Homo sapiens: one gene and its partners. The protein of the gene in region 2 purifies or fractionates together with the protein of the main gene of each other region. This does not show direct contact. Each region holds a gene or a part of one and is shown on either strand. Other genes may lie near its edges. The genes, in order: SUGP2, FGFBP1, ZNF638, UTP14A, USP36, NMNAT1 and LTV1.

Region 1 (3,500 bases), on a different chromosome or scaffold from region 2:
TTTTTTTTTTTTTGAGACACAGTTTCGCTCTTGTTGCCCAGGCTGGAGTGCAGTGGTGTGATCTCAGCTCACTGCAACCTTCACCTCCCAGGTTCAAGCGATTCTCCAGCCTCAGCCTCCCGAGTAGCTGGGATTTCAGGAATGCGTCACCACGCCTCGCTAATTCTGTATTTTTAGTAGAGATGGGATATCTCCATGTTGGTCAGGCTGGTCTCAAACTCCCGACCAAAGGCGATCCTCCCGCCTTGGCCTCCCAGAGTGCTGGGATTACAGGTGTGAGCCAGCACACCCGGCGCAGGTCTGGTTTTTATCTCATCAACTACCCAAAGAACTGAGAGCTTCTAATGCAGAAATAAAAAACTCCACCTCCCCCCAAGAAGAGCATACATAACAAGCACTCTGATACACTACCTGCCATCCGTGACAAGTTTAATTATTTACTTCATTTTTTTTACATTAATTTTTTTTTCTTGTAAAGATTAGGTCTGGCCATCTTGCCCAGGCTGGTCTCAAGCTCCCGGGCTCAAGCGATCCTCTTGCCTCAGTCCCGCTAAGCTGGGATTACAGGCACGAGCCACTGCGCCTGGCCCCATGAGAAGTTTTGAAGGATGGTAAAGGTTATAGTAGAATGGTTAGCATTTCACTGCAACACCAAATTTTTCAAACACAAAACATGAGGACTATTCCAAAGCAGGAAAAACCATAAGGCCACTGTCACATGTAAATGTGACTGTCTGAATGATGTAGAACACACAGGTGACTGTTTAACACAGTCCCACAATGGGGCACCATTCACTACAACTTCACACATAGGTTTTGCAGCAGAAGTCCCATGTGAAAGCACGGTCCAGGCCTGACTGTGGGGAGACAGCTTGGAGGGCATTGGGGGCACAGGAGTCATCTGGGCCACGGCGTGCCCATCAAAAGGCCACATGCGATGCAATTCTATGTACTGACAGACTAGGAAAGATAGAATACCTGGGGCTTGGAAAACAGTCAGTGGTTGCTGAATCGGGCAGGGGACTGCAATGGGACAAGAGACCCGTTCTGGGAACAGGCTTCAGCTCTGCTGTACTGGTGGGTTCTCGCCTCTGCACAGTCAACAAAATTCAAATGGTCCACTTGAAAAGGGTGCGTTTCACTGCTGGTAAATTATACCTCAAGAACCCGGAACCTCCCCACAGGAGAGCAGGAGATGGCCTCTCATGGCCGAGGCAGGTCCCACTGACCACTGCCTGGGACCACCCCTGCTCTGTTCCCATCTCACTGTCATGACATGAAGCAGCTTATCAGCACCCTGGGCCTTCCAGGGGCTCAGAAGGGCCCCCAGCTGACAAAGTCACAGGCAGGAAAACAGCTGAGATGACCCAGGCCCATCCCCTCCACAGTTGGGGATGCCCCGACCTGAATCCAGGCAATCAGGGAAATGTCCAGCAGCAAGTAGAGTGCCAGAAGCCACAGGGTAGCAAGGAAACATGTCCTTAGAGCAATGCCTTCAGACCACTGGGAAACATGAGTGTCGGCTCACATTTTGGAGTGGTGCACAAAACTCTTTTGGATTAAAATGTCTCCACCTGTCTCTTCTAACTCTCACAGCCCACCAACCAAGAACTGTGCTAGAGGCAACTGTGCCGACAGGCGGGCACTCACCTTTTGGCTCCTGGATGAGACACACTCTCTTGGGAGCTGGAATCATGCCAACCTTCAATGACTTGCTGCTGATCCTCTTCCGAGGGAAGCAGGTACCTGAGGAGGCCTGTGACAAGGCAGGTGCTCCAGCCAGGTCGTCCTCGGCAGCCTCGCCGGGAAGGCCGTCGGCAGGGGTGCTGCCCTCAGACTTGCCCGCCCCTCCAGGAGCGGGGGCCTCCTCTCCCCCATCCTCATCGTCCTCGTCCTCCTCCTCAGGCATCACCTCTGGGCTCTCCAGCTCAGCCTCCCGCGGAGGGGGCTCGTCTTCAAACTCTGCTTCCCCTTCCATGAGGTCCACGGGGCTCTCCTGAGAACCCGTGGTGTCACCACCACCAGTGTGAAGGTTGTGCGGAGATGACGTGAAACAAATTGATGGACATAGTTCAAACACTTTCTTTCGATAGAATTTGAAAGCAGAACTATTTTGGTCATGTAGAAACCTGGGGCACAGAGGAAATACATTGGGTAACCAGATGGAATCTCTCAACATTTTTATTTGCTGAAACTGCTGGGATTGATCCAAGGAAGGTGGAGGTGGGACAAGGGAAAGAATAACCTGACCAGTCTCTACGCGGCTATGGCTTGATGGTGCAGCCTCTCAATGATAGAAAATTTGAGGAGTACTAGTAACTTAATAAGGAGCTAGAATTCAAGAAGCCTAACTGCTTTCCAGGGGACAGAGGCGGACGAACAAGGTATGCAGGGCTTGGGAAAATGCTGGAATAGAGATCTGGCTTGAGACCCATCTCACCCTTTCTGGTTACATCACTGGCCTCTCTGGGCCTCCATGTGCCCATTTTGACTCTGGTTCCTCCCAGGTATGAGAAGCATGGAGCGATGCCAGGAGGAGCTGCACAGTTACTGCTGGAACATGTGCACCATGGAACCGTAAGGTGCCCCCCGAGGAGGCTCCTCACCCCTAGCACTTCCCGCTCTGGGGCCTGCAGTCCACCTACATGGGCGTGGAGATGAGGCCTCTCTGTGCCTCAGGGGTCTGGTGGCCACCTCGACTTGTAACCACAGCTATGAAGCTGTGGCTGGTATGAGAAACTTGAAACACTCCCGAAAGCACCAAAGTCCACTTGGACCAAAGGAAAAATGGCCCTCGTAAGGCAACTCAACCTCATAAATGTGCCAAGTCCCCCCAGTTAGCATATTAATATATCCCAATAAAATCCCATTCTGAATCAGGGCAAGATGGTTCTAAAGTTCATAAAGAAAAATAATATGTAAGAGTATCTGGGAAAACTCTGAACAAGACTCATAAGGGGTTCCAGCCCCACCAAGCACTATAAAATGCCCCAAAGCCTCTAGAGTTAAACAGCATAGTAGTCCATAAGGCAGACCAAAGGAACAGAATAGAAAGACCAGAAACCCAGCATTTGATTAAGGTAACCTCTCAAACTACTACAAAAAAGGGGTGGGTCTTTCAAAGAATGGTATTGGAAAAGCTGGACGGCTTTATAATTATTATTACACATTTTTAGAGATGGGGTCTCACTCTGTCGTCCAGGCTAGAGTGCAGTGGTGTGATCACAGCTCACTGCAGCCTCAAACTCCTGGGCTCAAGAAATCTTCCTACATCAGCCACCCAAGTAGTTAGGACCACAGGCAAATGCCACTATACCAGGCTAACAAACACACACACACACACACACACACACACACACACACACACACACACACCACACACACACACCACACACACATACAACTAAATATCAGCAGAAACAAATGAATCTGGGCCGGGCATGGTGGCTCATGCCTCCCAGCACATTTTGGGAGGCTGAGGCAGGCAGATCACCTGAGGT
Region 2 (4,172 bases):
TCCTGCACTATGCTGAGGAAGAATGTGCAGAGAGAGCTCCAAGTCTCTCCACAGAACTCCAGGGCAGTCTTCCTCTGGTTTGCCATATCTGGGTCCTCCACACACTCGGGAGCTTTGGTGGCCATGGTCTGGGTCACTGCTAGGCTAGAGGGGGTGGTCTCTTTGCCTTTGATGTGCTCCCTGGGGGACATCTCTGTTTTCTCCTTCCTGGGCTTTGTGTTCCCAAATAGAGTGGAGCTGACTAGCTTAAGACTGGATTCTGGAAAATCCTTTCTGCACACTCTGGTTTTCACAGCTGTCTTGGAATATCTACAGATGTCTTTCTGTGAGCGCAGATTCCGGGCAACTTGTTTCCAATAGACTCTCTCATCCTTGAGCTTTAGGCATGAGGTTGGATTGCCAGCAAAGACACAGGAAAATTCATGGTCCAATTGAGTGCACTCAACCTTGAGAGAGATGCCCTCCTCCTGCTCAGTAGCAGCCCATCTGCAGTTGGCTTGGTCTTTGGTGACAAACTTGCCTTTGTTCCCGGGCCTGCTTTTCTGCTTAATCTGGGTGTTGCCCAGAGTGTCCTTTTGTTCTGAGACCACTTTGCTGTGAAGTCCATTCTTCACTTTTTTTTTCCCCTCCACCAGGAGCACCTGAGCAGCCAGTAGGAGGAAGGAGAGCAGGGTGAGGCTACAGATCTTCATGGCTGCAGCTGGGCGTTCACCTGTTTGACAAAAGGCAAGTGAGTCAGTGGCAGGCAGCAGTTCAGCTGTGCAGGACTACACGCTGGCCTCCCCCTACCCTGACAGGTGCCTACATGATTTCAGAGTAGACCAAGAACGCTTCTGGCTCCTGGAGTCACTAGACAAACAGCCTGTCTACTCACATTTCCACTTGACTTGAGTCTTGAGTGTCACAAAAGTACCACTCTTTGGAGCCTCACGAACTCTCATTTATCATTTATTCACTCATTAACTCCTGCATCTGCTCACTCCTCACTCTTTCATTCACTCATTCAACAAGCATTTACTGAGCACCTACTATATGCCCCCCACCAGACTAGGTGTTGAAGAAATCACCATGATTGAGAAAGCCTCAGATTTGAAAGAGCTTAGAGACCACTCTTTGGGAGAATTTAAATAGCATTGATCAGGGAATCTATCCCGTCATCTCTGTTTCTGATATGAAACAAGTTACTGCTCCAAACTTTCAGCTCCAAAGGGCTGGATTTCTATCTCATGACTCCATATGGACACAGATGCCCAAAATGAGAAAAGACATGACAGATGCCCAAAATGAGAAAGGATGTGGTAAGCATCATGAAAGGTGATGTTGACCCAGAGTTGAACATGCCTGGGGTTTGGGTGGGGTGGGTGGGGTTGTGGGGGTGGGGGAGCTTTTTGTGGGGAAGTAAGAGTTTAAGGAAAGGTGTGAGGTGGGGTGGTTGTCTGATTTGCCTGGGCAAAGTGAATCAGGGTGGAGAGAGGTGAATTTCAACCAGATAGTTCACACTACAAGATCGAAGACAAGGATCATGAGAAATCATTGAATCAATAGGATGAACACCAACGTCACACTGAACTGCATGAATCTGATCATGTGTACAATAAAAACCCATGCTTAACAGAAGAAGAGAAGTCAGTTTCTATATGACACCTCCTGTGTGCTAAGTACTGGTCTAGGGTTTGATTCCCACCTTGTGAAATCCACACAAGAGCTCTTCCAGGTAGCTATTAATATGTCATCCCAGGTGACAGCTCTGACTCTTAAGGCTCAGACAGGTAAGTAAATTGCTCAGGATCTCATAGTGGGCAAGTTCAAAGCTGGTATGGGTAGCCAGATCAATCTCCTTATTCCTTTCTGTCACCCCTGGTTGATCACTTTTTGCTTTTCACATTTACTCTGCCCTTTAAAAACATTGCCAAAGAATAAGAAAAACAACTATGAACAATGACAATTTAGTTTCATATAACACATAATGATAAGATGATTTGTATTATTTGTGCTCCATTTAAAACAAAACACAGAATTTTTTATAAAAAGAGGCAGACCCAGGAAATGGTCCTGATCTGATTTCTACCCTAGAAGTTGGCCATCTTCTAGGGTTAAGAAGGAGAAAGACAATCACAAAAGGGCAGAGAACAGCAATAAATGGTGAAGAGGAGACTGGATATGCCAGAAAAACACCCAGTCATTTCTCACGGCCCTGGGGCTCAGCCCCCACCTGCCCATGATGGAATGCAGGCCCAAGGAACTCCAGGCCCTTGGTGGAGTGAGAAGTGGCAGCAGGTAATAAAGCTGTTAAAGGAGCGAGGCTCTTACCTTGTTCTGAGCACACGGATCCAGTGCAATCCCAGGCAGTGCGAGTGAATTGCAGGCTGCAGCTGTGTCAGGTAGAGTGCAAGGGGGGTAGACTATTCAACAGGAGCCAGGCTGACTGGGTTTTTATAACACTCACTGGGTTTTTACAACACTGTGGCACGTTACTCACAGCTCCTCCCAGCCACGCCCCTCCGAGGGAGCCGGTTCCTGCAGGGAAAGTGCTGGATGTAATCCAGTGAAAAGGGGGGTTACCTGCATGCCATCAAACGCTTCCTCTAGGCCCTTCCCTGTCCACCCTGTGGCCAGGATAGGAGGACAACTCAGCCTCACAGTGACCCTCCTTGATGGGGAGAGGACCCCAGCAGTGATGTCTATGGAGGAGTAAAATAACTATAATGACATGATCCGAGCTGCCAAACTACTGAGCCCATTTTACCTGAGTTCTCCTTTTCCCTCATCACATCCGCTCTAGTAGGGAGTGCAATGATTCCTCCCCTTTTACAAAAGCAGGAATTGGTTCTGGAGATATGTAAGAGCTTGTCCAAGTTCACAGAGGCAGGAAAAGGAACATCTCAAAATTAAAAGTGAGATTCTCTACATCCATGGTCTGATCTCTTCCTGCCTGCCACTCTCAATAAATCTTTGTTGAATGGGTGACTGAAGTTGCCGAAGTTTTCGTAGTGTCTGAGTTCCTTTTTCCATCTGAAGTTACTACATAAGCAGAGGATACCCTAATTCTAGAGGCAGGGAAATTTACATTAAAAATTCCCTCTTTTTTATCAGGGAATTCTACCAGGCTCTGAGAGGCTGGTAAAGAGGGAATTTTTAATATAAGATTACTGTTGTAAATACTTACCTTCAGGTCTCATTCAGAGAGCTCAGGCTGCCCTGCCTGCTACAGGCACAGTCCCACACCAGAATGACCCAGGTGGAATCCTGGCCACAGCATGTGTTTAGCTGAGTGCTATGCCCAAACCACTTAGCCTCTCCCATCATCCATTTGCAGTGTGCTGACAATAACAACGTCTCCTTTATAGCTGCATACTAAATTTTTACTGGGCTAAGCTGTTAACATAAAGTGGAGCAGAATCGTTTTGCCTCATGACAGGGTCTTAAGTTGTATACTTTGAAAACAGACATTTGTTATTTACATATGCAGCATTTAAAAAGAAACTCACTTCTACAGGGAAGATGTGGCCCTCATTATATATTATCACCTCACCTTTCATAGATTTTCAGAAGAAGAAATTGTTCACTTTTCCTTAATTCAGCCATAAGAAAACTATTGTTTAGTGTGATATTAAATGGCAACTGACTTTTGGGTTTGAGATAAGGCAATAGGGAGTGATGGGGACTGTGGCAAACTAGAGAGTCTCTGCCTCCATAGAGGTCAACACTCATCTCCAATTGACTGAGAAAATGCAGGGATTAGGCTCAGTATTGTCACACTGTCTGATTTTTAAAATGACATCCCCAAATCCAGATGTGTTTATATGAAATTGGTTGGCAGCTAATTAAAATTTTCTAAAAATAAAGCTGTAGCTCAACACTATGCAGGCCAAAACTTGTAACTGTGTTTGGATTTTATGAACGATCCACCTGTTTGAGAATTCCGTGGTCATAGCTATAGATGTTGACCAATTTACTCAGAGGCTCAGTCTCTGCATGAATCTGTTGGAAGAAGCCATTTCTGAAGCTGTGTGCCTCTCTCCTAAAATTGCCTCACCCAGGGGTCCGTCCTCACTATCCTCACAAACACCCCGCTGAGGCCCTGACCTCCACGAACAGGCTCTCTCATGCGGTATTTTGGAGGATTATTTGGACATAGGCAAGGCAAAGCTGCTTTGCTCAACAAGGGGAGT
Region 3 (3,500 bases), on a different chromosome or scaffold from region 2:
TGGAGTAGAAAATCATTTTGCAACCATCATAGTAAAGGATGGTTCAGGTAAGAATCATGAGTGGGTGTTACAGAGGTAAATTCTAATGAGCAGGATATTTGCATGGTCTTAAAACGTCTCTCCAGAGATTAATTCCAGGGGGAGTGGGGGGAAACAAGCACTTTAACCATAGCATATGCTCACACATAGTATCATGCATGAAGGGCAAATGGAAATGGTAAATCTCCAGATCTGATATCCTGGGGACATAGCATTAGTTACGTGATTTTTCTGCCCAGGGACATATAATCTACATCTAATCAAGAGGAAACATCAGATAAATCCAAAATGAGAAGTGCTCTATTAAAGAGAAAAGCAAAGCAGATTGTATTCTTCAAAAATGTCAACTTCACAAAAGATAAAGGCAGACTATGGAAATGTTCCAGACTAAGGAAGATTAAAAAGACATAACAACTAAATGCAACATCTGATCTTAGTTTAGTCCTGTACTGGAGGGGGAAAAAAAAACTGCTATAAAAAACAATATTGGGTCAATTGACAAAAACCAGAATACAAATAGTAGACTGAATAATTTTATAGGCTGCGCATTGGCTCATGCACGTAATCTTACTACTTTGGGAGGCCGAGACAGGTGGAATGCTTGAGCTCAGGAGTTCGAGACCAGCCTGGGCAACATGGCAAAATCCCATCTCTACAAAAAATATAAAACGTAGCCAGGCATGGTGGTGCGCGCCTGAGCCAGTACTCCCAGCCACTTGGGAGGATCGCTTGAGCCCAGGAGGCAGAGATTGCAGTGAGCCGAGATCACTCACTGGACTCCAGCCTAGGTGACAGAGCCAGACACTTCCTCAAAAAAATAAAAAAGGATTTTATAAACGTGAAATTCATTGAAGTTGGTAACTATGACTGTGAAAGAAAATATTTTTAGGAAATACACACTGAAGTATTTAGAGATAAAGGACCACAATATATGCAACTTAATGTCAAACTTTTCGGGAAAAAACCATATATGCAGGAGACAGGGAACTCCCCCACCACCTGTCACTTAAATTCATTCAAATATAGTTAATGGCACAACATTTCATGTCCAACATTGGACTATGTGATCTTCTTACTTTATACAAAGTCAAAAAAAAAAAAAAAACTATAGGCAATATGGCAAGAGGCAGAAAACCTGCAGTATAATAAAGAGCATCAGCCTTAAACACATTTTTGGATTTGGCCCTTCTTTTCTACATCATGTTCACTTCCTAACTATTGACTGTTAGTCAGCCTATTATGCAATCCATAATAATCTAATCTTTGGGGAAATTTCCACTGATCTGAAGATACCCACCCTGCTAGGAGGGGTGCCAGTGAATGACTTCATGCAAAATTAGTTAACTCCTTAAGTAAAATTTAGCACTACTAATTCAGCTTTAGAGAGGTAGTGCAGCACAGTCTTTAAGAACTTAGACCCTACATTCAGTGTTTTAACTCTGGTCCTGCTGCTTGCTAACAATGTTACCCTGAGCAAGCTGGTTAATCCAAGCCTATTTCATCCTGTGAAATAACTCTGGTCCCACTGCTTGCTAACAATGTTACCCGGAGCAAGCTGGTTAATCCAAGCCTGTTTCATCCTGTGAAAATGAAACAACAGTACCCATTGGGAATGCTGCTGTGAAGATTAACTAAAATTGTAAATCCTGACATGCAACAGGTGCTCAAAAAATGCTCAACAGTAAACAAAATGCTTAATAGGTGTTTCTTTCTTTTAGTAAGACGAGTAATTTTTGAAAATTATATTAGACATAGGAGTTAATTGCTTACATCCACCTTTCTTTCAGTATTTCCTATATTGAGATCTAGCAATTTGTTTAACAAGCACTTGTGTTTTTTTGGTTTTTTTTTTTTTTTTTTTTTTTTTTTTGGAGATGGAATTTCACTCTTGTTGCCCTGGTTGGAGTGCAAGGGCGCAAATCTCGGCTCACCGCAACCTCCGCCTCCCGGCTTCAAGCGATTCTCCTACCTCAGCCTCCCGAGTAGCTGGGATTACAGACATGCACCACCACCCCAGCTAATTTTGTATTTTTAGTAGAGACGGGGTTTCTCCATGTTGGTCAGGCTGGTCTTAAGCTCCCGACCTCAGATGATCCGCCTGCCTCGGCCTCCCAAAGTGCTGGGATTACAGGCGTGAGCCACCGTGCCCCGGCCTTATCAAGTACATTTTTAAAGTCACATCAAAATTCATGAATTCAGATGCTGATGAAGCAAAAGATTATCTAAATAATGTATAAAAAGCAAAGTTTTTCTTCAAGTAAACTCTAAGAAAAGGTAGGTGGGGAGTTTATAGACTTGAGAGTTATCAATCGTAACCAATTATAAATGAATTATGAACATTAGTTGGATCCTGACTCCAACAACCTTTACCACATATGCATGGGGGTGGGAGGTAGTGAGTTACAACTGGGGAAATTTGATATCTGTCTGAATATCTGACATTAAAATTAATTACTCATAGTTACTGTTGTTTTACGTGTAATATGCATGTTTTCTTCTAAACACTCTAGAGAAAATTCTGAACTATATATTGAACTGATAGAAGCATTTGTTTAAAAATAAGCAAGTAGAGATGAAACAAGACTGACCATTAGCTAGATAATTGAAACTGGACAGGCACATGAATGAATTAGTATCATTCTCTCTACTTTTGTATATGTTTAAAATTTTCCATAGTAAAATGGTTTTGTTTCTTTTTTTTTGGTAAAAATATTTAAAACAAAAGTTGGCAACTTTAACTCAGCAGAGACAATAGGCAAGTTAGCTAAAAGTTTAACCGACTGTGGAAATAAGATAGGAAATTTTTTTTAAAACTTGAATGAACAATAAATATATTTTGGTTCAAAAGAATTAAAAAATAATCCAAAATATATGTTCCTTAGGGTAACCATGAAGAAAACAGGCTGGGCGCAATAGCTCACACCTGTAATCCCAGCAATTTAGGCGGGTTAAGGTGGGAGGATGGTTTGAGTCCAGGAGTTTGAGACCAGCCTGGGCAATACAGCAAGACCTTGTCTCTATGAATTTTTTTAAAAAAGATTAGCCAAGTGTGGGGACGTGTGCCTGTTGTCCCAACTACTCAGGAGACTGAGGCAGGAACATCGCTTGCACCCAGGAGGTAGAGGCCGCAGGGAACCATGGTGGCCTTAGAGAAAGAGTGAGATCCTGTCTCAAAAACAAAGCAAAAAAACATAATGTACGTTAAAGCTATTTCTCCTGTTTCCTGGACTTTCTTTTCAAACCAAAACCCTGGACTTTCTTTTCAAACCAAAACCCTTATTATTCTTAACCCTCACCGGAGTTTTTTTTGTTTTTTTTTTTGGAGACGGAGTCTAGCTCTGTCGCCCAGGCTGGAGTGCAGTGGCGCAATCTCGGCTCACTGCAACCTCCACCTCCCGGGTTCACGCCATTCTCCTGCCTCAGCCTCCCGAGTCGCTGGGACTACAGGCGCCCGCCACCAC
Region 4 (3,500 bases), on a different chromosome or scaffold from region 2:
CTTTGGACACATGTACGTTTATTTCTCAAGAATCAGGTTTCCTTGCTCATTTTCACTGGGGTCCGTGGCTTTCCAGTATTTTAGGACACTCTTGGAAGGTGTGAGAAAATTCAATTTATTTACTGTCCAAGGAAATGCAAATCTATCTTTCATTCTTTCATATCACAGTCAGCCGCTCTGCACATTTAGCTAGATGGCCAGTTGTTGAGGGGGCTCAAGAGAAAGCCACTAGGGTCCTGTGGTCATATATGTACACCCCCACAATCTCAGCCCGCTGTGCTGCTTTCCAAAATTCTCTCAGAAGTGACTACTTGCAATTATTAATCCCAAAAATATCCAGCCAAAACTATTAAGTAAAGGTCCCTATAATATATTCTAAATGATAGCTCTTTTAAAATAAATTTTTGTATGTGGAAACCTGAAAAAAAAAAAGGAAAAAAAAAAGGAGGCTGGGTGCGGTGGCTCACACTTGTAATCCTAACACTTTGGGAGGCTGAGGTGAGAGGATAGCTTGAGGCCAGGAATTCAAGACCAGCCTGGGCAACAGAGCAAGACCTCAGTCTCTACAAAAACTTAGCTCAGCATGGTGGCACGTGCATGTAGTCCCAGCTAGTTGGGAGGCTGAGCCAAGAGGATCGCTTGAGCCTGGGAGGTCTTAGGCTGCAGTAAGGTATGATTGCACTGCTGTATTCCAGCCTGGATGACAGAGCAAAACCCTGTCTCTTAAACAAAAAAAAGTAGAAAAAAATAATTCTTTTGCCGTGTAAAACCAGATTTTTGCCATCATCTAAATGCATTCCTATGTGAAACCAAACCAGACCTGGTAATTTGTCCAGATAGCCAAGTGATTTCTCAATGTAGCTAGTTTCCTAGGCAGGTTTTTTAGTGTCCTGGTTTATTGCCAGAATGGGAACTCTCTGACCAATCTCACAGGTGCTAACATTGTCAATAAGATCTCTTCAAGATAACAGGTAGAAAATATAACATACAAATAGAGCCTGAGTATGGAGTCACAATTCTAATTTGCCATGTGGCCCTGTGGAGTCATTCATTCCGTAAAGTCTCACCCCATGTATACACACATCAACTAGCATTAAGAAGTGCTAAAAATGCCACTCCTACTTAACCAACAAAACAAAAAAATCCAGCAACTAGACAATGTTTCCTAATGTCTCAAAATTGACCTATCTGTGTCTACAGGTGTGAATGGACTTTCAGATTTGCCATTCTACCATACGTACTTCTCCCTGGTGTGTAGGTACCAGGAACGCTAACTCATACCCTGACTTCGAGTATGGTTTAGTTATTATGGGTTTCTGAAGGCTGTAAGCCCCCAAGAACAGAAAATGTGCCTGAACCACGTTGCACGGCCATGCAGATGACTGCTTATTAAATGTCTTCGAAGAAAAATAGTTATGAATCTAATTTCTCTTCAGGGATCCAGTGTACGCACTCTTGCAAGTCCCCAGCGCCTAATCACTATGCAGTTTTGTGTGTGGGTGGACACATTTTTTTTTTCTCCCATAGTCTGTCCACAGCACTAGGAATTTCCCTCTTCCATTTGATCACAGCTCACCTTTTGTTTCTTGACTGCCTGCTGGCTCAGCATCTTGGCTGAGCTCAGATCTTTTTCTAAGGGATCGCCTTTCCTCAAATTCTCTCAACAAAATTTCTTCTTCTGCCACTGGTCTTTCTTCTCCCTCACTTTCAGAAACTCCATGGGCCTCAAGCTCTGGCAGTTGCTCAGGGTCCTCCTGGGTTGCAGCCTCTTTGGTGTCACTGGTGCAGCTCCTGAGCATCCAGGGATTCGGCCCATCTGCATTCATCTGCACTTCATTCACTACATCAGGGACAAGGAGTTCTTCCACATCTTCTGTGCCTCCCTCCTCTTCCTCACTCTCAGAGGCTACCTGGAGTTTCTGTGTCAGTTCTTTGTTCTTAGACAACTGTTCCTGCATAGCTTGGCGAGCCTGGAGGAAAGAGTCACAGCATGAGAGCCCTGTCATTAGTGACCGCAATAACACCTTTCCTGGTCCATTTCATAAAGCTGCCTCCTCTCAATTTGACTTGGTGAGTATTTCTTACTGGTACCTACTGTTTAAACTGCATATACAATGCTGGGTTAATAGCTATGGTATAAAATGGAAGACAAATTCTTTGTCCTCAAGGAATCAACGGTGAAATAAGATTTTAAAAAGCTCCTCTCCCCCTTTGGACTTGCCTTCAATGCTGTTTCCCTTTCATCTCTCCTTTTCCACCTTGTTCCTGGTCATTTTCCTTTCTGCCTTAGAGATTTTTCTGATGCCTTTTTAGATTCCTGGTTTTCCATCCATCCTCATGGCTCTTCCCCAACTCTGCTTCTGCTAGCATCCTCCAATTCCAGATCTTCTCTCACCCCAAGGGTCTCTTACCTCCAGGTCATATTTGGCCATAATTGCCTTTGACTTGGCCCATTTCCCACTGTTTTGGTGCTTAAGGCTCATTCTTTCCTAGAAAGAAAGGACAGAGTGAGATTTACATCTTTAGTGCCTTCCAAGGAAAGCTGGTTCAAAGGGGTGGGGGTGGGGCAAGAGGTAGTCTCACCATCATTCTGGCCTTTTCAATTTTTTCCAGTTCTTCTAGTGCTGCAGCTGGATTAACCTTCCGCAGCTGCTCAAACTCTTTTAGGGCTTTCTTGGCCTTTCCTTTCTTCACGACTTTGTGATACCTGTAGGGGTAGGAGGGAAGAGTTTAGCAATTTAGCTGAAGCACGGATGTCATAGGCACAAGTGCCCATACTACCCAATGGGTTCCCTAGGCAGGGGGCTGGAATGGGCATCATAGAGCTAGTTGGCTATAGGGAGTCAGTTTGGGACCTGACAGGACTGGCAAGATTCTTGGTACCCACAGTCCTCAGGGTGGACCTCTGCAGCTCAAAGAGTCTCCTTTGCCTCTATAACTCAAGGGAGGGGTAGAACAAGTTTCATTTTTTTTTTTAGACAGGGTCTCACTCTGTCACTCAGGCTGGAGTGCAGTGACATGATCTTGGCTCACTGCAGCCTCCACCCGCTGGGCTCAAGCGATCCTCCCGCCTCAGCCTCCTAAGTAGCTGGGACTATAGGTGCACATTACCATGCCTGGCTAATTTTTGTACTTTTAGTAGAGATGGGGTTTCGCCATGTTGGCCAGGCTGGTCTTGAATTCCTTACCTCAAGTGATCCACCTGCCTGAGCCTCCCAAAGTGCTGGGATTACAGGTGTGAGCCACCGTGCCCAGCCAGTTTTGCCATGTTGCCCAGGCTGGTCTTGAACTCCTGAGCTCAAGTGGTCCATCCACCTCGGCCTCCCAAAGTGCTGGGATTACAAGCATAGCCACCACACCCGGCCGAACAAGTTTCAAAGAGGCAAAAAGGCAGGAAGGAAGCCCTATTGGCCTTAACAGCTCTGGAATTCAGAGCTGATTCTGCAGAACCACTCTGTGATGCCTTGGAAGGCAGAGAAAGTAACTGAATAGTCATCTTT
Region 5 (3,500 bases), on a different chromosome or scaffold from region 2:
ATTGGTTAAAAATCTTCCCATAAAAAACCCCAAGCAGAGACAATGTTATTTCTGTGTAACTTTTTTTTTTTTTTGAGACGGACTCTGTTGCCTAGGCTGGAGTACGGTGGTGTGATCTCAGTTCACTGCAACCTCCGCCTCCTGGGTGCAAGCAATTCTCCTGTCTCAGCCTCCCAAATAGCTGGGACTATAGACGCACGCCACCACGCCTGGCTAATTTTTGTATTTTTAGTAGAGATGGGGTTTTACCATGTTGGTCAGGCTGGTCTTGAACTCGTGACCTCAGGTGATCCAACCGCCTTGGCCTCCTAAAGTGCTGGGATTACAGGTGTGAACCACTGTGCCCAGCCAATTTCTATGTAACTTTTAAGAAACAATTCCAATCCTTTACACGTTCTTCCAAAGAATAGAGGAGGAGAGAATCTTTCCCAGCTCATTCTATAAAGTTCCTATAACTCGGATAACAATAATAAGGAAAATGCGAGAAAGAAAATGGATAACCACAACTTCTTCACGAACATAGATATAAAAATTGTAGGAAAATACTACCAAATGACACAGTTTCTAAAAAACTGTAAGCAACTTATGTTTATCCTAGGAATGCAGGATGTTTTCATCGCAGAAAATCTCTAAGTAGAATTCTGGAGGGAGCAGAGCAGTTGAAAACACAGCTCAGGAGCCTGGCCTGTAGGGTTTGCTTCCCAGTTTGCCCCTTAGTAACTGTGAGTTTTTGAGAATGTCCCTGGTCTATGGAAGAATGAGACTGTCTTCCTTACAGAGTTGCGTGAGGCTCCGATAAATTCTGAGTGAGTCAAGTGCCTGGAGTAGCAGCCCGCAAAGAGGGAGTGCTATAGAAGTGACTGCTACTGGCTGGGCACGGTGGCTCACACCTGTAATCCCAGCTACTTGGGAGGCTGAGGCAGGAGAATCACTTGAACCTGGGAGGCAGAGGTTGCATTGAGCTGAGATCACACCACTGCACTTTAGCCTGGGCAACAGAACAAGATTCCGTCTCAAAAAAACATAAAAAAAAGAACACAAGATGGCCATGCAGTGGGAAGTGTTTGTAAACATCTTGCTAATTGCGATGGCTTCATAGCAGCAAAGGTTAATTATCAAGGCATAGTTGTTGAGATGAAGCAGCACATTGTTTGGGGGCGTTTTTTGGAGATGGAGTCTCGTTCTGTCGCCCAGGCTGGAGTGCAGTGGTGCAATCTCGGCTCACTGCAACCCCCGCCTCCTGTGTTCAAGAGAGTCTCCTGCCTCAGCCTCCCAAGTAGCTGGGACTGCAGGTGCCCGCCACCACGCCTGGCTAATTTTGTATTTTTAGTAGAGACGAAGTTTCACCATGTTGACCAGGCTGGTCTTGAACTCTCGACCTCAGGTGATCTGCCTGCCTCTGCCTCCGAAAGTGCTGAGATTACAGGCATGAGCCACCGTGCCCTGCAGAAGCACATTGTTGAGATGGCTAATTGTAGCCCCTATTTCCAGTGGTGACCTTGGTAATTTTGAGGTGGTTCTGGGTGGACTTTCAGTAAGATTTGACTAGATGGCTGTTGTTTTCGTCTCATGGTTTTGGCAGTAAGACTCTGCTATCCCAGGCCTGTCAGGGCTCTTCCACTGTAGAGCTGCCTTCCATTCTTGGTTTCTCTGCAGGATCTTTTTGAGCCAGTTGCCAACTTTGTGAGGATTAATTTAGTTAAAACTAGATAATATCTGTAAATCCCCGTAACCTGGCACAGGTAAGCTGCAGTTTGTTGCAGCATGTCAGCAGCAAGCGTGTGAGTAAGGCAGCCATGGCCATCCCTTCAAGGGGAACGCCTGGTCTTCCTTCCAATACCGGTCCCATGGGCCAGTATCACTGTGAAATATTAGTGCATCTTACTATCTTGGAACATATGAAGAGACGTTGTGGCCTTTTTTTCCTGCACCCCACTGGATCCTGAGTGACCCCTAAGTGGGCTTTGGCTGTGGTCTCCCCCTCCTAGCACATGGCATTTGAAGAGTTGAGGATCCTAAGGGGTGTTTGTTCTGACGAGGGTCCACTGTGCACGTGGCACGGAGCAGCAGCTCCTGCCGTAGGCTGGACTGTCTCTGGCGCTAATATTTAGCTAGAAGAGAAACACTGTGTAAATAGTCTAGGAGGAACGCAGTTCAGTCCTGTCCTTTTGTTTCCCAAATCTCTCTATGTCCGTGTAGTCATGGATTGACTTTTGAGTTATATTTTCCTAAATTACATGAATAAATATTTGTCCATGTGCCACTTAAATTAATCTCATATATTGCTGGAGAACCTGGCTTAGATTGTTATTTACCCTGTTAAGAGTGATATTTTATTAGGCTGAAAGAAGCTTTTTTTTTTTTTTTTTTTTGAGACAAGCTCTCACTCTGTCACGCAGGCTGGAGTCCAGTGGTGTAATCATAGCTGACTGCAACCTCCACCTCCCAAGCAATCCTCCCACCTTAGCCTCCCAAGTAGCTGGCACTATAGACTCATAGCACCATGCCCAGCTAATTTTTTTTTTGTATTCTTTGGGTAGAGATTTGGTTAGGCAGTGTTGCCCAGGCTGGTCTCAAACACCTGGGCTCAGCGATCCTCCTGCGTCAGCCTCCCAAAATGTTCGGATTATAGGTGTGAGCCACCATGCCCAACCAGCAGCGTTTTATATATAATGATTAGAGGCTTAATTTCTACACAGTTTTTTGAGACAGAGTCTCTGTTGCTTATGCTGGAGTGCAGTTGCCACAGTCTCGGCTCACTGCAACCCCCACCTCCCAGGTTCAAGCGATTCTCTTCCCTCATCCTCCCAAGTAGCTGGGATTACAGGTGACTGCCACCACACACGGCTAATGTTTGTATTTTTAGTAGAGATGGGGGTCTCACCAAGTGGCCAGGCTGGTCTTGAACTCTTGACCTCACGTGTTCCACCCGCCTCACCCTCCCAAAGTGCTGAAATTACAGGTGTGGGCCCCCATGGCCATTTTCTTTTGTAGTAAAACTGTATCTTACCTGAAGTTAGGTTTTGGAAAAAAAAGAGCTCTTCAATATTTATGTTGTCCCTTTTTTTTTTTTTTTTTTTTTTTTTTTTGAGATGGAGTTTCACTCTGTCGCCCAGGCCGGAGTGCAGTGGTGTGATCTTGGCTCACTGCAACCTCCGCCTCCCAGGTTCAAGCGATTCTCCTGGCTCAGCCTCCCGAGTAGCTGGGACTACAGGCACGTGCCACCATGCCTGGCTAATTGTTTGTATTTGTAGTAGAGACGGGGTTTCACTGTGTAAGCCAGGATGGTCTCAACCTCCTGACCTCGCGATCCACCTGCCTCGGCCTCCCAAAGTGCTGGGATTACAGGCGTGAGCCACTGCATCTGGCCTGTATTTTCTTTTAAATGACATAATTTTTGCCTAATTTTGAGTTCACCAATCATTATTGTCATTTTAAAAATAAAAGTAATAACATGGATATAGTTAGAAAAGGCAAGCAGAAGTCTAAAATGAAAAAAA
Region 6 (3,500 bases), on a different chromosome or scaffold from region 2:
GCAAAGCGAGAAATAAATAGGGGATCTAACCCAGGAAAGAGATGAAGAAGTTTTCAGAATAATAGCTTCACAAATAGAGATTTTTCATCTGGATAAGAGGAGGAGAGTTCCAGAAAGAAAATCCTCTGGGAAAAAAACAGATTGAATAGAATAGCAATTGTAAATTAAACCATTTGAAATTGATGTTTTGTTGATTAAAAAAAAAATTGCTTGCTGAGCACAGTGGCTCATACCTGTAAGCCCAGCACTTTGGAATTGGCCAAAGTGGACAGGTTCGCTTCGAGATTCTGAGCCCAGGAGTTTGAGACCAGCCTGGGCAATATGGCAAAACCCCATCTCTACAAAAAATACAAAAAAACAATTAGCCAGTGCATGCCTGTAGTCCCAGCTGCTTGGGAGGCTGAGGTCGAAGGATCACTTGAGCCTGGGAGATGGAGGTTGCAGTGAGCTGAGATTGTACCACTGTACTCCAGCCTGGACAACAGAGTGAGATACTGTCTCAAAAATCAAAAAACAAAAGACAATTCTAGTAACATAATTTGCAACATTCATAATAGCTATATTCATAGCATGTTTGCTATTTGCCAAATGTAGTTTTTTTTTTTGTTTTTTTTTGAGATGGAGTCTCGCTCTGTTGCCCAGGCTGGAGTGCAGTGGCACGATCTTGGCTTGCTGCAAGCTCCGCCTCCTGGGTTCACGCCGTTCTCCTGCCTCAGCCTCCCGAGTAGCTGGGACTACAGGTGCCCGCCACCACGCCTGGCTAATTTTTTTGTGTTTTTAGTAGAGATGGGGTTTCACCATGTTAGCCAGGGTGGTCTCGATCTCCTGACCTCGTGATCTGCCCATCTTGGCCTCCCAAAGTGCTGGGATTACAGGCGTGAGCCGCCGCGCCTGGCCTGCCAAATGTAGTTCTATGTCTTGGATCTGTATTGTTTCATTTAATCCTCACAACAATCAGGAGGTAGGTAGTATTATTTTCTCCTTTTTAAGATTGATTAAAAACTGGGACAAGGTGGGCACTGTGGCTCATGCCTGTAATGCCAATACTCTGGGAGGCCGAGGCAGGTGGATCACTTAAGGTCAGGAGATCAAGACCATCCTGGCTAACATGGTGAAACCCCGTCTGTACTAAAAATACAAAAAATAATTAGCCAGGAGTGGTGGCGGGCACCTATAGTCCCAGCTACTCGGGAGGCTGAGGCAGGAGAATGGCATGAACCCAGTAGGCGGAGCTTGCAGTGAGTCGAGATCATGCCACTGCACTCCAGCCTGGGCGACAGGGCGAGACTCTGTCTCAAAAAAAAAAAAAAAAAAATTAGCCAGGTGTGGTGGCACGTGCCTGTAATCCCAGCTACTTGGGAGGCTGAAGCAGGGAGGATTGCTTGAACCTGGAAGGCAGAGGTTGCAGTGAGCTGAGATCGTACCACTGCACCCCAGCCTGGGTGACAGAGCGAGACTCTGTCTCAAAAAAAAAAAAAAAAAGCCAAAGAAAAAACCTGGCACAAAAGGAAGGTTAAGTTAGGGTTAGGTTGCCCAAGGTCATGCCGTTGGAGCTGCAATTTGAAGCCAGGCAGCCTAATATCAGAGCATAGGCTCTTAACTCTTCTGTTATATAGGCGGGAAATTGTAGGATACTTTCTTGTAGAGTCTGACTAATCCAAGCAAAAAGACCTGCGGTACTGACAGGTTACTGAACAGTTATGGCCCCTGTGCACAAGCCCTACCTACCCACTCAGCCTGTCCCATCAGCTCTTTTTGAAGAAACTTTAAAATATATCATGAATATTGGTAGAGAAATAGAGATGATAATCTGTTGGGGAAATGAGTAGAATACCATAAACAGGAGTATTCAGAGGATAGGGCTCTTGGAAATTAAGAGTGTAATGGCAGAAGTGAAAACTAGGCAGATTGGAGGATGAAGTTGAGGCTATCAGGAAATTAGAGCATGAAGGCAGGAGGTGGAAAATACAGAAAAAATGATTAGATGCTTCAGCTCTAAATAATAGACATTTTCAGGCCAGGCACAGTGGTTCATGGGCGGCTGAGGTGGGTGGATCACTTGAGGCCAGGAGTTCGAGACCAGCCTAGCTAACATGGTGAAACCCATCTCTACTAAAAATTCAAAAGTTATCTGGGTGTGGTGGTGCATGCCTGTAGTCCCAGCTACTTGGGAGGCTGAGGCAGGAGAATTGCTTGAACCTGGGAGGTGGAGGTTGCAGTGAGCTGAGATCGTGCCACTGCACTCCAGCCTGGGTGAGAGAGGGAGACTCTGTCTCAAAAAAATAAATAAATAATAGACATTTCAAAAGAACAGATAAAATGGGAGGCAGAAAATCATCAATGAAAGAACTCAAGGACATTTTCTAGAACTGAATGTTACAAGTTTCCAGACTGAAAGGACCTGCTTGCCCTGTGCTCAGCATGATGGATAGAAACAAAGCTGCACTAGAGGACAGCACTGTGAAATTTCAGAACACTGCGGACAAAGAGAAGACCTTACATGCTTCAAGACAGGAAAAAAATGACATTCAAAAGCTCCGGAATTAGAAGTGGCTTTGGATTTCATGCTATTAACATTGGAATCTAGAAGTAATGCCTTTGAAGTTGTGAGAGAAGATGATTTTCAACATAGTCTGGAGATAAACTATATTGGGCAGTTTGGGAGAAGGTAGTCAAAGGGTATGAGGGCTAATCTTTATAGATCATAAAGTCAATGGGCACTGTTATAGTTGGATAAATTAAGAAATGGCATTATAAGCACATAATGTAGAGTTATGGTAGAAACTACCAGAAGAAATAGCTGAAAAAGTTAAAAGTGGTTGGATGGAAGGGATGATGAGTGGAATATGATTGATGGCTGTTGGTTTTCATTAAGGGCCTTTTTTACCCTGTGATGTTCTAGATCTATATATATGAATTAGTTGAATAAGAAATTTTAGGCCAGGCGCAGTGGCTCACGCCTGTAATCCCAGCACTTTGGGAAGCTGAGGCAGGCGGATCACAAGGTCAGGAGATGAAGACCATCTAACATGATGAAACCCCGTCTCTACTAAAAATACAAAAAATTAGGCAGGTGTGGTGGCAGGCACCTGTAATCCCAGCTACTCGGGAGGCTGAGGCAGAAGAATGGTGTGAACCTGGGAGGCGGAGCTTGCAGTGAGCTGAGATCGCGCCAATGCACTCCAGCCTGGGCAACAGAGTGAGACTCCCGTCTCAAAAAAAAAAAAAAGAAATTTTAATAAAAACCTAAAATTGGATGCCTTATGTTACTTCATTAGGGTTATGGAAGGATCAGTGGAATAACTGATATGAAAAAGAGGTTTGTAAATTATATTCTATTATTTAGTGGAAAGTTATGATGTTACTATCATGTTGACTAAAAGGCAAAAATGCTGTATTTGGTAGATGATAATATTGTTGTATTAATTAACTGTGGCCACAATAGTGCAATCACAAAACTTGAGTGACATATGATAATGAACACTAATTTTTTGTTTTTG
Region 7 (3,500 bases), on a different chromosome or scaffold from region 2:
AAGTTAGGAATGAGCCATTCAACAGCCTCTCCCTCTAAGCCCCCAAGAAAAAAACCAAACCTGCTGATACCTTCATCTCAAACTTCTGACCTCCAGAACCATGAAGGAAGAAATTTCTGTTGTTTTAAGTCACCTAGTTTGTGGTAATTTGTTACTGCAGTCCTAGGAAACTATTACAACTACATTCTGTGTTCTCTCACCTGTGCTCCAGGTTGTATATATGTTAAACATGTATATTCCATCATAAACCCAAAAGTAACTCTCTATAATACATCACAATGCCTTCTCTAGCAAATTATTCCATTTATCCCTCAGATCCCATGAGGTATCACCATGTTTTACCAAAAGAACAAAAACTAGGAAAGTTTAAATGGCCCACCTGCCTGAGAATGATCAGTAAGTGAGATTCTGGGATTCAAATCCCAGAGTTTCTTAACTCCACTTGCCTGAAATTTCAAACCAAAATTAAACATTTTCCTCTTAAACTAGAGATAATGTCCTAATCTCTAGTAATGGCACAGCCCTTGTATGAATTGGCAATCTTAAATCCTCGGGTGGTTATAAATCATTTTGCTCTGTCCTATGTCCCCTTGAAATCTCTTACATACAGTGATTTCACTCTATTCTTTGGGGCATCACCTCATTTATAGTTAACCAAAACATAAATGACTGCAACCGCTCATATAGCTAGTCTATATCTACTACAACCTTCATACCCATGGCGAGATTAAGCTCCTTTAATAGTTTTTCATGTGACCTTCTTGAGTTTCTGACAGGTCTCAATTTTTCACTCTGTATTTAAGGCCCTGGTTCTCAAGGACCTATAAAATCAAGGCCTACTCTGTGTATCCAAATTTCTCAGTTATTCTATATGACCATGCAAATCAAGTTCATTCCTCAGTCATGTAATAATGCAAAACACTTTACTTGGCGCGCATGTGCCTGACACGGAACCACAGTGCTCACTGTCTCGGCAGCCTGACTGAAAATGTTCCTTCTCCTGTCAACAGTACCCACCACTTGGTGGCCAGCTCGGTTCCTACCCTCCGACATGAAGCCCTTTCTGATCACTGTCCTAGAACTTCCCTTTGTGTGAACTTCCCGCCTTCTTCACACGCTGCAATCTACTCAAACATGTGCTTGCTAGCCTACATTCTCTGACTGGTTCTTATGCTTGTTTCCTCTCCTTGACCAAACAGTTCATAACGTGAGGACAACCGCCATGTGTTATTTATCTCTGTGCACCTCACCACCTGCCCTATCCTCAGCCCAGGAGGAGGCACAAAGCTGGAATGTGCATCCTCATTGGCTCACTGAGAAAGCTCTCTGAATTGGAAGCCTCTGAGGAGCATGAGTAAAGGCTACATATGGCAGTGTACACACAGCAAGATGTTATGGCTTCCAAAATGAGTTTCTCAGTAGCACAAACATGGGCAAAGATGTTATTTTGCTGTAGAGTATATTTTTAAGAAAACAGCTTTACTAAGACATCATTCACATACAATTCACCTAAAGTGTACAATTTAATGTTTTTTAAGGATATTACATTATTAATTACTTAAAATTGTAGTAAAATCTACATAGTCTTTTAGGTTTTTAAAAAGGTACCTTTGTGATATTTATCCTTAGAAGTTTGGGGTTAAACACAAGGTCAGTTTGTGTTAAATGAATTTACCTTTGTGAGATATTTTTCAAATCTTGAAAAGTAGTCAATCACATACACGATTAAGAGTTTAAAGAGAAATTACTCTGTTTTTAGAGGAGTGCTGTGTTTTCATTGGTTGCAGTAGTTCTCAACTACATGACATTTGCCCAGCTACTTTCCACAACAGCACCACCATCTTTCTTTCATGTCAAAATCAGGGCCTGCTCAAGCATCAATCATTTCTATACTGCCTTTTTACACTGTCTTACACTGTTTCTAGGGGTTATTCATTATTTCTAATCTACTCGAATTTGGTGGTGTGTTACAAATTAAAGTAAAAAAAGTATATGGGACTAATCCATATTTTTTCATAGCTCTTCAGAAAACCAACCACACTTCTGTTTTTAAATACAATTCAGCTGTCCCTGCAAAGGTCACTGAAGTGTCCATTTAAGAGCCTTATCCTGTTAAAAAGCCAATTAGTGATTGCTTTTACTCAAAATGAATTAAGGATTAAAAGTTAGTCTTATACGACCGGGCGCGGTGGCTCACGCCTGTAATCCCAGCACTTTGGGAGGCCGAGGCAGGCAGATCACCTGAAGTCGGGAGTTCAAGACCAGCCTGACCAACACGGAGAAACCCCGGCTCTACTAAAAATACAAAATTAGCCGGGCACAGTGCCACATGCCTGCAATCCCAGCTTCTAGGGAGGCTGAGGCAGGAGAATCGCTTGAACCCGGGAGGCGGAGGTTGCGGTGAGCCGAGATCGTGCCACTGCACTCCAGCCTGGGCAACAGGAGCAAAACTCCGTCTCAACAACAATAACAACAACAACAAAAGTTAGTCTTGTACTGGTCAATACAAGCCAGGCAAGACTTTACTAAGAATTTTCTCCCTTAGATAAACAAGTTGAGCCACTAAGGAACCCCTTCTCTCCTTCAATAGGTTATAGAAGCAAGTGAGCCAATAAGTCCCTACTACCAATAAAGCCTTGAGGAAGAAGGAATAAAGAAGTTGGTTCTCTATGACAGAGATGTGGTGGGATTTGGGGCGTTACAAAAGAGCCACAACCTACTTAGTGAACGAGCAGCTGCAGTTATTACCTTTCTTTGGGATGGTATCCTGAAACCTAACCTTTCTGAGTCTCCTTAAGCAACAAGCTATTGCCTATAAGAACTACAATCACATCTTCCCCAAGGAAAGGAATGCCTAGACCATGACAGAATTGGGGAATGAGGAGCAGGGTAAACTGGTGCCCTTTCTATCTCTTACCTTTTGCTTATAAACCTAATGAATGTCTCCTTTTTTTAAAGTGCTAGGTGATATAAAAGTTTCCCACAGGAAAATTTACTCTACATCAAATTAAAAATAAGGTCACGGAGGCATACAACATGGGCATTCTTAACATAAACAGGGGAGAAAACAGAACTTAGACTAACAGCACTAATTTCTTATAAACACGTACTATCATTTGTCCTGAAAGAGAAGGTATTAAAGTGGACCGAACATTTGTTTACAAGACAGGAATGTTATTATCATCCACTCATTCTGTTTGCTTATGAGTAGCCTGCAGCTTTTACAAAAGTGTTAAAGATCTGAATATTCCACAAAAGTTAAGTCCTATCTTAGAACAAGAGTTTATGATCCTGAAAACAGTTATGTTGTTAACATGTAGAATGTCAGCTGCTTTTCTCCTATTGAAAAGTGCTGTCTAACATGGCCATGTCTATCAATCAAAAGTTCTGAACCTATAAAAAGGCTGTTACTGTTGACACCTGCCACCAGAGAAGACGTGACCTATTCTCTCCTGATGGTATACACATGCATACACATATATAATTTTAAGTGGAGGCGT

Evidence for each region.
Region 1: the proteins of FGFBP1 (region 2) and SUGP2 purify together in Homo sapiens (affinity purification with mass spectrometry; one large-scale study listed by BioGRID and IntAct). This does not show direct contact.
Region 3: the proteins of FGFBP1 (region 2) and ZNF638 purify together in Homo sapiens (affinity purification with mass spectrometry; one large-scale study listed by BioGRID and IntAct). This does not show direct contact.
Region 4: the proteins of FGFBP1 (region 2) and UTP14A purify together in Homo sapiens (affinity purification with mass spectrometry; one large-scale study listed by BioGRID and IntAct). This does not show direct contact.
Region 5: the proteins of FGFBP1 (region 2) and USP36 purify together in Homo sapiens (affinity purification with mass spectrometry; one large-scale study listed by BioGRID and IntAct). This does not show direct contact.
Region 6: the proteins of FGFBP1 (region 2) and NMNAT1 purify together in Homo sapiens (affinity purification with mass spectrometry; one large-scale study listed by BioGRID and IntAct). This does not show direct contact.
Region 7: the proteins of FGFBP1 (region 2) and LTV1 purify together in Homo sapiens (affinity purification with mass spectrometry; one large-scale study listed by BioGRID and IntAct). This does not show direct contact.

The regions. Positions count from the first base shown.
Region 1 is NC_000019.10:19,002,518-19,006,017, forward strand, and holds part of SUGP2 (SURP and G-patch domain-containing protein 2), read right to left. Parts: intron 2,130-3,500; coding exon 1,651-2,129; intron 1,092-1,650; coding exon of another isoform or gene 997-1,091; exon of another isoform or gene 979-996; intron 1-978. UniProt on the Homo sapiens protein: May play a role in mRNA splicing.
Region 2 is NC_000004.12:15,935,941-15,940,112, forward strand, and holds the start of FGFBP1 (fibroblast growth factor-binding protein 1 precursor), read right to left. Parts: upstream 2,801-4,172; 5' UTR 2,747-2,800; intron 2,532-2,746; 5' UTR 2,311-2,531; intron 713-2,310; 5' UTR 693-712; coding exon 1-692.
Region 3 is NC_000002.12:71,334,782-71,338,281, reverse strand, and holds part of ZNF638 (zinc finger protein 638), read right to left. Parts: intron 1-3,500.
Region 4 is NC_000023.11:129,919,664-129,923,163, reverse strand, and holds part of UTP14A (U3 small nucleolar RNA-associated protein 14 homolog A), read right to left. Parts: intron 2,708-3,500; coding exon 2,584-2,707; intron 2,490-2,583; coding exon 2,412-2,489; intron 2,362-2,411; exon of another isoform or gene 2,222-2,361; intron 1,971-2,221; coding exon 1,577-1,970; intron 1-1,576. UniProt on the Homo sapiens protein: May be required for ribosome biogenesis.
Region 5 is NC_000017.11:78,830,815-78,834,314, reverse strand, and holds part of USP36 (ubiquitin carboxyl-terminal hydrolase 36), read left to right. Parts: intron 1-3,500. UniProt on the Homo sapiens protein: Deubiquitinase essential for the regulation of nucleolar structure and function. Required for cell and organism viability.
Region 6 is NC_000001.11:9,967,475-9,970,974, forward strand, and holds part of NMNAT1 (nicotinamide/nicotinic acid mononucleotide adenylyltransferase 1), read left to right. Parts: intron 1-3,500.
Region 7 is NC_000006.12:143,846,338-143,849,837, reverse strand, and holds part of LTV1 (protein LTV1 homolog), read right to left. Parts: intron 1-3,500. UniProt on the Homo sapiens protein: Essential for ribosome biogenesis.